Linked DNA regions of Homo sapiens: region 2 is linked to region 1. A link means that fine-mapping ties the variant in region 1 to the expression of a gene that starts in the linked region. Tissue or cell type: putamen. Region 1 holds a variant in brackets; the other region holds the start of a gene. All regions are shown on one strand. Distances are between the middles of the regions.

Evidence for each region. PIP is the estimated chance that this variant, and not a neighbour inherited with it, causes the effect.
Region 2: it holds the start of ADAMTS2, and the variant in region 1 is fine-mapped to the expression of ADAMTS2 in putamen (GTEx, PIP above 0.99).

The regions. Positions count from the first base shown.
Region 1 is chr5:178,519,962-178,525,517 of GRCh38, reverse strand. The region is part of intron 2 of COL23A1 (collagen type XXIII alpha 1 chain); the gene reads left to right. Among named protein-coding and RNA genes, the nearest start is that of COL23A1, 68 kb to the left of the region's middle. RefSeq lists an enhancer at 1-715. The variant A/G (reference allele first, on the strand shown) is at 2,907.
Region 2 is chr5:179,342,993-179,348,270 of GRCh38, reverse strand. ADAMTS2 (ADAM metallopeptidase with thrombospondin type 1 motif 2) reads left to right here and starts at 2,810. Exons shown (of 22, transcript NM_014244.5): 1 at 2,810-3,081; 2 at 4,110-4,504. The coding sequence starts at 2,943. LOC105377759 (a long non-coding RNA gene) reads left to right here. Exons shown (of 3, transcript XR_941311.3): 2 at 1,173-1,325; 3 at 1,492-1,910.

The DNA.
Region 1 (5,556 bases):
AGCCATGTGAGCTTAGCCTTCGGGTCCCGGGGTCTGCGCGCTGTGTCGCCATTTCTTACCAGCCATGTGAGCTTAGCCTTCGGGTCCTGGGGTCTGCGCGCTGTGTCGCCATTTCTTACCAGCCATGTGAGCTTAGCCTTCGGGTCCCGGGGTCTGCGCGCTGTGTCGCCATTTCTTACCAGCCATGTGAGCTTAGCCTTCGGGTCCTGGGGTCTGCGCGCTGTGTCGCCATTTCTTACCAGCCATGTGAGCTTAGCCTTCGGGTCCTGGGGTCTGCGCGCTGTGTCGCCATTTCTTACCAGCCATGTGAGCTTAGCCTTCGGGTCCCGGGGTCTGCGCGCTGTGTCGCCATTTCTTACCAGCCATGTGAGCTTAGCCTTCGGGTCCTGGGGTCTGCGCGCTGTGTCGCCATTTCTTACCAGCCATGTGAGCTTAGCCTTCGGGTCCTGGGGTCTGCGCGCTGTGTCGCCATTTCTTACCAGCCATGTGAGCTTAGCCGAGTTATTTAACCTCTTGTTGCCCTAGTTTCTTTCTTCATCTTAAAATGAAAACACGTAGCATAAAGAGTTACGCAGTTTAGGTGGGTGGTGCGTGTGTAAATGGAGTCCCGCAGAGTGCTGGGCTCCCAGACAGCTGTTGAATGAATGAATGACTGCATTGCTGCGTGAGTGAGTGAGCGAGTGTGTGAGTGAGTGAGTGATCTGTGGGTCTGTTGTGGAGCCACATGGCCTGTTAGGGCTCTAGACAGGGGCCCTTATGAAAAAAGAAGGCCCTGCTTCAGGGGCATAGGAGGCGTCAGGCAGGCAGCAGGGCAAGAGCCAGCCCTGCCTCGGGTCAGCGTGGCCTGGAAGTTGGCCAGGTCTGCAGGAGAATGGGCAGGTGTGGCCAGGTGGTCCATGGGGGAGGAGGCTGGTACAGGCCAGAGCTGGTCAGGTCAATGCCCGACCATTTCCAGGACCTTTGCCTGTGCTGAGCATGGGTTATTTTTTTCTGGATACATCCATCCCCCATCCTTTCTGTGACAGTTCCCTGATTTCCCTTTGGGTAAAGCCCCTACCCCATTCCCAAGCTATGTATCTTGGGATGGGCTGACCCCACCACCAGGCTCTGCTGATACCCATGTGACCCAGTTATTCTCATAAGAGACAGATTCTAGGATTTTCCTGGAACTTCTGAACTAGAGAGGGTCTCTTTCCACTGGGGAGAGCGGGCAGGATGTGGTCTGGAGCTGCGGGGGGCCACAGTGTGAAGAGGGCTCCCCTGGGAATGAAGCCAACATGGAGGAAACAGAGCTGACAGATGGGGAAGGAGAGAGCCCTGGTGATGTTATTGGAGTGCCTGGATCCAGCCAGACCTGAATCTTCCTGGATTTTTCAGTCAAGAGGGGCAGTACGTTCTCTTTGTTATTTAAGCTAGCGTGACCCAGGTTCTGACCCTTGGAGATAAAGGTCCTGGCTGATACACCAGAGACCCTCCCGTATGACACAGAACCAGTGTCCCCGCAGACGCTCATTCCTGTGGAGGTTTGTATTTTTGAAGTCCTTGTCAGAGATCATGAAAAGGAAGGGTCGTAGATAGGAGAGGTCTCAGGAAATAGTGGTTGCAGTGAGTGACAGCCGTGTTCAGAGCCCAGGTAGTGTAACTTGCCTCTCCCCGTGTAACAGCTCAGGTTGTGTTGTGGCTGCGTCCCAGCAGTGATTCTTGGGAGAACAAGGATGTCAGAATCTGGAATGTGCGTTGCCTGCATTGAGCAGAGTCTCCTTCCAATTGTTCATCATTCCGGGTTTCAATGAATTTTTTTCAGAGTGTGCAGGTTTACATATGCTGTTCGGTTGGTGATGGAAACACTTACGGCCACTGATAAAGCAATAAATGAAAGGAAATGACAGGAAAGCACCATCCTCGAGCTTCCATGGACACAGAGATGAAGATTTCCATCTGTGGCTAGACAGGCGCAGAGCTTTGGAGGTGCTCCTGGCCCGTCGGTTCCCAGTGACGTGTCTTCAACTCCAGGCCGTGTAGATTGCTCAGAACTTGTGCACATCATAGAGGTTTCTCTTTCTTTTTCTTTTTTTTTTTTTTTTTTTTTTGAGACAGAGTTTCGTTCTTGTTGCCCAGGCTGGAGTGCAGTGGAGCAGTCTCAGCTCACTGCAACCTCCTCCTCCCAGGTTCAAGCGATTCTCGTGCTTCAGCCTCCCAAATAGCTAGGATTACGGGCGCGCACCACCACACCTAGCGCTCTCTCTCTCTCTCTCTCTCTGTCTCTCTCTCTCTCTCTGTCTCTCCCTCTGTCTCTCTCTCTCTCTCTCTCTCTCTATATATATATATATATATATGTGTATATATATATATATGTATATATATATATATATATTTTTAAATAGAGACAGAGTTTCATCATGTTGGTCAGGCTGGTCTTGAACTCCTGACCTCAGGTGATCTGCCTGCCTCAGCCTCCCAAAGTGCTGGGATTACAGGCATGAGCTACCACGCCTGGCTGGAGTTTTTTTACATTCAGTTCTGGACATAGATGGGAGGCTGGGCCAGAGAAATAGAGTATAGGGCAGGGGATGCCCAACTCATTCCCGAAATGATCTCTGTGTTAAAATTGTACCATAAAGCCACGCTTGGGGTCCATAGCATCAAGGTGGATCTTCTTATCAGAGACTGGGGGGAGACTTGAATGGGAAGGATGCCCTCGGGCAGAGCTCACTGGCAGTCCCCGTAGGCCACGTCTGGTCCTGGGCAGTGCTCTTGTATGGGTGCTTAGCGCTTTCTTGGATCACATCTTTTGGTGTTGGTCCTGTCATCAGACTGTGGGAGGATCACAGACAGCGCGTCTATCGTGCCCTCCACCACTGTCCCCGTTGTCCTCAGATACAAGCGCATTGCCTGCCCTTGGGTAC[A/G]TTCTTTCTCCAGTGACCCCCTTGCTTCATTACATGTGCTGACCACCGGCTCGTCACAATCTCGGGCAGGCACAGTTGTGGGCTGAGGGCAGCTGTGGATGGTTGACTGGGGTTAGCATTTGTGCAGCTTTTGAACAATCTCTTGGCTGAATGGGGAAGCGTGGCGAGTTATTCCCCGGTCCTAGGGTGTGGTAGATGACTTCTCCTGTTGCTGTGATGTCTGTGCGGACTGGGACTCACGTGGGCTAAATATGTATGTCTTCATTTGAGAGGACCAAAACACGATTCTAAGGTTGGTTGTTTTCCAAAGGCAGTAACTCGCCTGGTTAGTTTTTCTCTTTTTCCTCTCTCCTGCCCCCAAATTACATAAAGCAAAACATCCAGGTCGTTTCCAAATTTCATTTCATAAACCGAAAACACGTTTTAGGTCTCAAGGGGCAAAAGACACCTTCATCCAGTTAACTCGGAAAGTTTTTAATGTTTATATGGCACAAAGTTCTTTCTTTTTTTAGACAGACTGGAAGAATCCTTCCTTTGCTAAGACCTTATTCTTTTTCTGGTTTGTTTGAAATTTTTTTGTTGTTGTGGTAAAAAATACATAACATAAAGATTACCATGCTAGCCATTTGAAGGGTACAATTTGGTGGCATGAATTACATCCCCAATATGTTGTGCTACCATCACCACTACGTATTGCCAAAATTTTCCATAACTCCAAACAGAAACTGTGTAACCATTAATAAATAACTCCCTTTATACCCCTGACCCCAGCCACTGGTAACTTCTTAACTGCTTTGTCTCTGTGACTGTGCCTAGACTAGATATTTCATATACATTGAATCATAAAATAAGTAGCCATTTGTTTCTGACTTTCACTTAGCATAAGGACTTCAGGGTTCATCCATGTTGTAGCATCCATCAGTGCTTCATTCCTTTTCATGGCTGAATAATATTCCATTGCATGGTTAGACCACATTTTGTTTATCCATCCATCAATTGATGCACAGTTTACCTCATTCTTAAATGTTGGCTTTAAATAGTTTTTTTTTTTTTTTTTTTGAGATGGAGTCTTGCTCTGTCACCCAGGCTGGAGTGCAATGGCGCCATCTCGGCTCACTGCAAGCTCCGCCTGCTGGGTTCACACCATTCTCCTGCCTCGGCCTCCCGAGTAGCTGGGAATACAGGCGCCTGCCACCACGCCCGGCTAATTTTTTGTATTTTTAGAAGAGACGGGGTTTCAGCGTGTTAGCCAGGATGGTCTCCATCTCCTGACCTCGTGATCCACCTGCCTTGGCCTCCCAAAGTGCTGGGATTACAGGTGTGAGCCACCGCGCCCGGCCAGCTTTAAATAGTTTTAGCGAGTAAATGTAATAAAGTCATGTGCCCCATAACCACATTTCAGTCAACGATGTACCACATATATGATGGTGGTCCCGTAAGATTATAATACCATATTTATATGTTTAGGTATGTTTAGATATATAAATACTTTCACCACTGTGTTGCAATCATCTATGGTATTCAGGACAGTGACAAGCTGTGCTGGTTTTGTAGCCTGGGGGCAATAGGCTACACCACGTAGCCCAGTGTGTAGTAGGCTCTGCCACCTAGGTTTGTGTAAGTACATGCTATGAAGTTCACACAATGACAAAATCACCTAAGGACACATTTGTCAGAATACAACCCTGTTGTTTAGTGACACAGGACTGTGACTTCCTCTAAATTATTCCTATAAATTCTTTGTTTCCTAATACCGTCTGGACAACTGAATGGAATGAAATTAAACTAACATTGATGGATTGTTTGCTATAAACCAGGCTGTATGCTGGGGTCGTGCACAGAGTGTTATCTCATTGAATCCTCACCAGCATGGTAGGAAGTGGATCGCCTGACCTCATTTTACAGATGGAAACACTTAAGCTTCACTTAAGGAGAAGGGATTTGCTCAAGGTCACATAGCTAATATGTGGCTGGGCTGAAATTGGAACCCTGGTCCACCTCACTTCTGAACACATGTGCTCCCCTCCTGTCTGCTTTGTCTCATTGATCATGGATGGGGCAACCTGGTTCATGGCTTTGTCACATTGAGAGATGTTTCACAGGTGCTTTCTTCCCAAACACATCGACAGAGCCCTGAGCCCTGGTCCAAAATGGCCTAGCTTTTGTCCTTTGGCCTTAGTAGCTTCCGTATCAGTTCTTCAGTGATGAGGAGAACATGTAGGAGTCGTATGAGGTGTTGGTGCAGTTCCGAAGGGGTCTTGGAGGAACTGATAGATCTGTCTGCAGTACAGTTGGGGAACCAATGACTGGCTACCTCCACCGAGCCTCTGCTCTGGCAGCAAAGTCAAGGACTGTCCAATCTTACTAGTCACACACTGATTCCTTCCCAGTCTTCCCTCCTTCCTTACCAGCCATCCATCCATCCTTCGATGCATTCACCCGTCTGACCATCCAACATGCATCTGTCCAACCATTCAGATGCATCCATCCATCCATTTATCAGACCATCTATCCATCTAACCATCCTCCATCTATCCATCCATCCATCCATCCACCCATGCATCTGTCCATCATCTGACCATCCATTCACCCAACTCTCTATCCATCTGACCATCTTCCATCTATGCTTCATCTGTCCACCCATGCATCT
Region 2 (5,278 bases), 820 kb before region 1:
GCACAGCCAGACCTGAAGACATTCAGGCTCCAGTAGAAACGAACGCACGTGGCATGTGCTCAACAACACATCCGGCGGCGTTGGCCCAGTGGCCCTTAGTTTTTGTCGTTGGGACCTAGACTGAACATGCAGAGGAGCAGAGAGCCACTGGGGACTTCTATGTCCCGTATTTTACCTGGAAGAGGAAAAGGGGGACCAGAGAAAGAGGCAAACACCAGTAAGGGGGGAGAGGCAAGATTTGAATCATGGAGGTTTGAAGAAGTAGCAAGATTTTTGTTGTTGTTCTTTGGTTGTTTTTTGTTTTTCTGTTTGTTTCTGAGTGGAGGACAAATGATCACGGGCTGGGATGTGTCTGCAAGTCTCCTCCACCTCCCTGAGGGTTTAACTGTGAAGTTAGGTGCATGTGAGCCTTGTTCATCCACCACCCTGGTGGGTGACAGTGGGGGCACTAAAGGAAGGGCCAGGCAAGGGTGCTGCTCCATCCCCAACTCATCCCTGGTGGCAGGGGCACGGGTGATGTGGGAAGAATCAGCTGCCTGGGGTTATTCAGTGTCCAGGAGACAAATTCTTTCCCCCAAAAATATCCCAAAGCAAGTATCCCAAAGTATACAAAATAATTTAGCTCTGTGAACCTGTTAGAAGATGCCATCAACTCATAAAGTCAGAGTTACTCCTTTTCAGGCCTCCTTTCATCCTTCCAATCACATCAGAACAACGACCTCTGTGCTAGTCCATCTTAAGGCTTTTGTAACACTTACTAATCAGCTTCAGCCTTCGGTATCTTTAGCAGGTCAAAGTATCTGGAATTTGATAACATTTCTCTTCTTGTTGTATTTATTTTTAGCAATTATCTTTGATTTATGGAAACATGGTGAGATGCTGGCTTTTCCATTTATAGTAGTGATTTAAAGTATCCTTTAAAAAATTGAAAAAAGTTTTAGGCGCTGTGTAAAGAAATACCCAACCATAGACACGGCAGGAAGGTGCAGAACATGCCCCTTGAAGTAGGGGCGGCTGCTGGTTGGGTTTCACTCGTGTTTCGAAGAGGATGGAAGCGCTGACAACCACAGGAGGAATGCGTCATGGGTTCCAGGACAGCAACTGGCTGGACCCAACTCTGGGCTGCCTAGCTCCCCCAGCCTTCACAATTCAACTCATGCCACCTCTTACAGGAAGTCCTCCTGGATGCCCAGCTCTGGAGTCATCTCTGTGGTATACTAGGATTCCAGTTCCAACTTTCTCTGGAACCAGTTGGGTCATCACAGGTCACGAGAGCAGATGCCTACAGAGAGTGAGGAGAGGCGGGACCTGCCACAAACTGCAAGGTAAGTGCCCATTTAATGGTTGCTAAGCAGGACTGTGGGGCTAGCGTGGCCACATCTTCCAATATCTCAAGAAAAGTTACCAATCTAAATTTCCATGTGACATCTCACCATGCCTGGGAGCTGGATCCAGCCTCGGGCACCCTTAGGTGACACAGAAAGAGTACAGCTTGCAGGTGAAGATGGCTGTCCAGCTGCGATGCTCTCACACCCAGGACCCACAATCGAAAGAACCAAGGACGTGAGATCACAGTTAGAGCCTGCTGTGTAAGTCGTGTTTCCCCCAACGACTGGGACCTCCTGGCCAGCAGGGAGAGGCCTGAGTCATCTCCGGGTCCTCTGCCCCTGGCCAAAGCAAAGACCAAAGCCCTGGCCACACAGACCTGGGGCAGGGCAAATGAGAAAATCAAAGGGGTGGGTGTTCACCCTCTGGGGAAGTGAGGCAGAAATTGGGGGTCCCAGGGCAGAGATGATCAACAGCCTGAGAGGGGGCTCTCAGGCAGGCCCTGGAGAGAGGCCGCTGAGCTCAGACAGCATGGGAGGATCAGGGCCTTGCTGGAGAGGAGGGACTGGGGAGGGGTTCCGGTTGGCAACGGGCTCTAACAGCAAACTGGCCCCAGAATGGGCCCAGGTGTCCTTGGATGCTTGGGTGGAAAAGGTAGGCAGAGCTTGGAGAGGCCATTTCAGGTTGGGGGCCGGGAGTGCAATGGCGGGAGGACAGAATGCATACGTGGGGTTGAGGACAGGTGAGGGCAGGAGCCTGACTGTGCTCATGGGCAGAGAGCCCAGGTCTGGCAGGAAGAGGCTGTGCTGAGGCTGCAGCGGAGGGATGGGAAGGCAGATGGGGGACAGGGGACAGGGACTTCAGAGGAAGAGGAACTGGGGACTGAAGGAGCCTTGCCTCTCTCAGTAAGGGCAAAAGTTGATCTTTGGGGTCGCGCCCTGGGTGTACCCTCCTAACAGCATCTTCTGGCCTTTGCGGCCTCTATTTGGGCATTCGGCCTGGCTCAGACCTTGGACCCAGTAGTCAGTCCCCCCTCCCCTTTCATTCCCTCACCCTGTCCTGCCCCAGAGCACAGAGACAGGGGGATGCACCCCTTGAATTCCAGGGCTGATGGGTGGGACCCGGCACCCCAAGGGCTCTCTAGGTGGGGACGTTCGGCCGGCGCCGCTCCTCGGAGGTTGTGCCCCTGGGGTGGCTGGCGGCGGGGCTCCCCCGGCCCGGCCCGCGGCGCTTCTCTGCCGCCGCCTCGGGGTGTCTCTGCTTCGCTGCGAGCCCGGCACCGCGGCGACGGCGGCGCGAAGAGGGAAGCGGGCGGCGGCGGCGGCCGCGCCAAGATGCGCCGGGTCACCGCAGGCTGAGGCGCCCGCCGTCCCCGCCCTCCCCCTCGCTCGCCTCCCTCCCTCCCGCCTGCCTCCCTCGCTCGCTCGCTCCTTCCCTCTCCCCGCCTTCCCTCCGCGCTCCCCCGCCCGCCCCTCCGCGCCTCGCCTCCTCCGCCCCGCGCCCTGCGGTGCTGCAGCTGCGGGCGGCTCCAGCTGCCCCCAGATGTGGGCTGGGCGGCTCGCGGGGAACTTTCGCGCCGGCTGCGAGTGCGGGGCCCCGGCTGCAGTCCGGCTGCCATGGATCCGCCGGCGGGAGCCGCTCGCCGCCTGCTCTGCCCCGCGCTGCTGCTGCTGCTGCTGCTGCTGCCGCCGCCGCTCCTGCCGCCGCCGCCGCCGCCCGCGAACGCCAGGCTCGCCGCCGCCGCCGACCCCCCAGGTAGGTGCGGCCCGGCCCCTACTCCCCGGGACCCCCGCCGGCCTGGCCCTGTCCCGCGTGCCCCGCCGCCCCCTCCCCAGGCGTCGTCCAGCCTGACTTGGGCAAACTCCGCGCGCCCCGCCCGGGGCCAAGTTGGCCAACTTCGGGGCCGGGTTGGTCGCGCAGGGGGCGCCCCGCACCGCCCCCGAGCGCCTTGGGCCGGGGGAGCCTCGGAGCACTGGCGGCTCCTGAGTCGCGGAGGGTGGGGACGGAGGGCCGGGAAAAGCCCCGCGGCCAAGAGCGCAGAGTCAGCCCCAGCGGGTCCGAGGGGGGAGCCAGGGCGAGGCGGCGCCGGGGCTCGCGTCCGGGGACGCTCCGGAGGAGCCGGCTGCCGAGCGCGTAGCCTTGGGCCCTAAGGATTGGTTGGGGCGCCCCGCAGGGAATCCCCGGAGATCGGAGGGACCCTGTTCCACCCCTCCCAGTCCTCGGGCGCTCGGGGAGACGGGGCCGGCAGCGGGCTGAGCGGGAGCTGGACAGGCAGGACAGGCCGCTCGTGCTCGGGGAAGCCGAGACTCCGCCGCTCCGGAGGCTGGCGGTGAGGGCACTCGGGCGGCAGGGGCCCGCCGAGGGGTCGTGGCACACGGGTAAGGGGGCCAACCCGGAATGGCTTCCGAGCAGCTCCACGTCCTGCCAAGGACGGTAGGTGCAAGGGTCGGGGGACTCTCTGACGGGGTCGTCCCTTCGGGCACGGGGAGGTTCCCACCGAGCCCCAACCCTGAACGGGGCAGGGGGCAGAGCTCTTGGCAGGCAAGGTCTCCGGAGGAGGGAACGGCTGGGGAGTGGCGGAGCCCCGGAGTGGTGGCCCTGTTAACGCCCCTTCCCGGTTGCAGGAAAGCCGGGGAGGTGCAGGCTGGCTTCTGGGGTCGCCTGGCGGAATGCCCCTTCCCTTCGCAGTGGGGCGGGGTCTGGGGGGGCGTGGCTTGCCGGCGGGTCTCTGAGGCACTGGGGCTCCGTGGTCTCCGCCGATCTAACGCCCCTTCCCGTTGCAGGCGGGCCCCTGGGGCACGGAGCGGAGCGCATCCTGGCGGTGCCCGTGCGCACTGACGCCCAGGGCCGCTTGGTGTCCCACGTGGTGTCGGCAGCTACGTCCAGAGCAGGGGTACGAGCCCGCAGGGCCGCCCCGGTCCGGACCCCGAGCTTCCCCGGAGGCAACGAGGAGGAGCCTGGCAGTCACCTCTTCTACAATGTCACGGTCTTTGGCCGAGACCTGCACCTGCGGCTGCGGCCCAACGCCCGCCTCGTGGCGCCCGGGGCCACTATGGAGTGGCAGGGCGAGAAGGGCACCACCCGCGTGGAGCCCCTGCTCGGGAGCTGTCTCTACGTCGGAGACGTGGCCGGCCTAGCCGAAGCCTCCTCTGTGGCGCTCAGCAACTGCGATGGGCTGGTGAGTACGCACTTCTCTAGCTCCTTTCTCTCCGCTGCTCTCGCCTGGGTTTTGGAAAAGGGTTACCTGGGAGTCCCTTGGGAGGGCAAGGCCTGCGCTGAGGACTTTCCGCGCCCTTCCCGTGCTTTAGTGAGCCTCGTGCTCCAACTGAAGGGCTTGGCTGGAAAGCAGGTTGTTTTGACTGGTCTGAGCAGGGGGCCATTTATGCATGGGGAGCGCCCGGGTCTCCAAAAGGCTCAGCAGGCAGGAGCGTGCGCCTCTCTCTTTTGCCTGCCTGAACAGGTCTCTGGCTTGCATCCGGGGGTGGGTCCGTGTATGTGTGTGTACCTTTGTGAGTGTGTGCACATGTGTTGTGGAACGTTGGTGTGTACCTGCATCTGGGTGCCCGTGCACCTGTGTGAACATGTGCGTGTGCCAGTGTCTCTTGTGCACGTATGTGTCTGGGTTTCTGCACATCAGTGTGTTGAGCATCTGTTGAGTTTGTGTCCGTCCTTGTGCATACTGGCGTGATATGTGTGTGGTGGACTTATGGGCTGGCAGTCAGTCTTCCTGTTTCCTTGCGTGCGGGTAATACCAGCCCAGGGAGCTGGCAGTGATGCTGAAATGCCCAGTTAGCCCTCTGCCCCTTGGCTGACCGGGAATCATTGGTTTTTCTGCTGTGGTTTCCTGTTGAACTCCAGCTGGTTCTTTGAAAAGTTGGTTTTCTCTATTTTGAGCTGAGGGGTGCATTTGGAAATGAAGGCTCTAGTGCCCATGAGCTGCTCGATCTTTTGG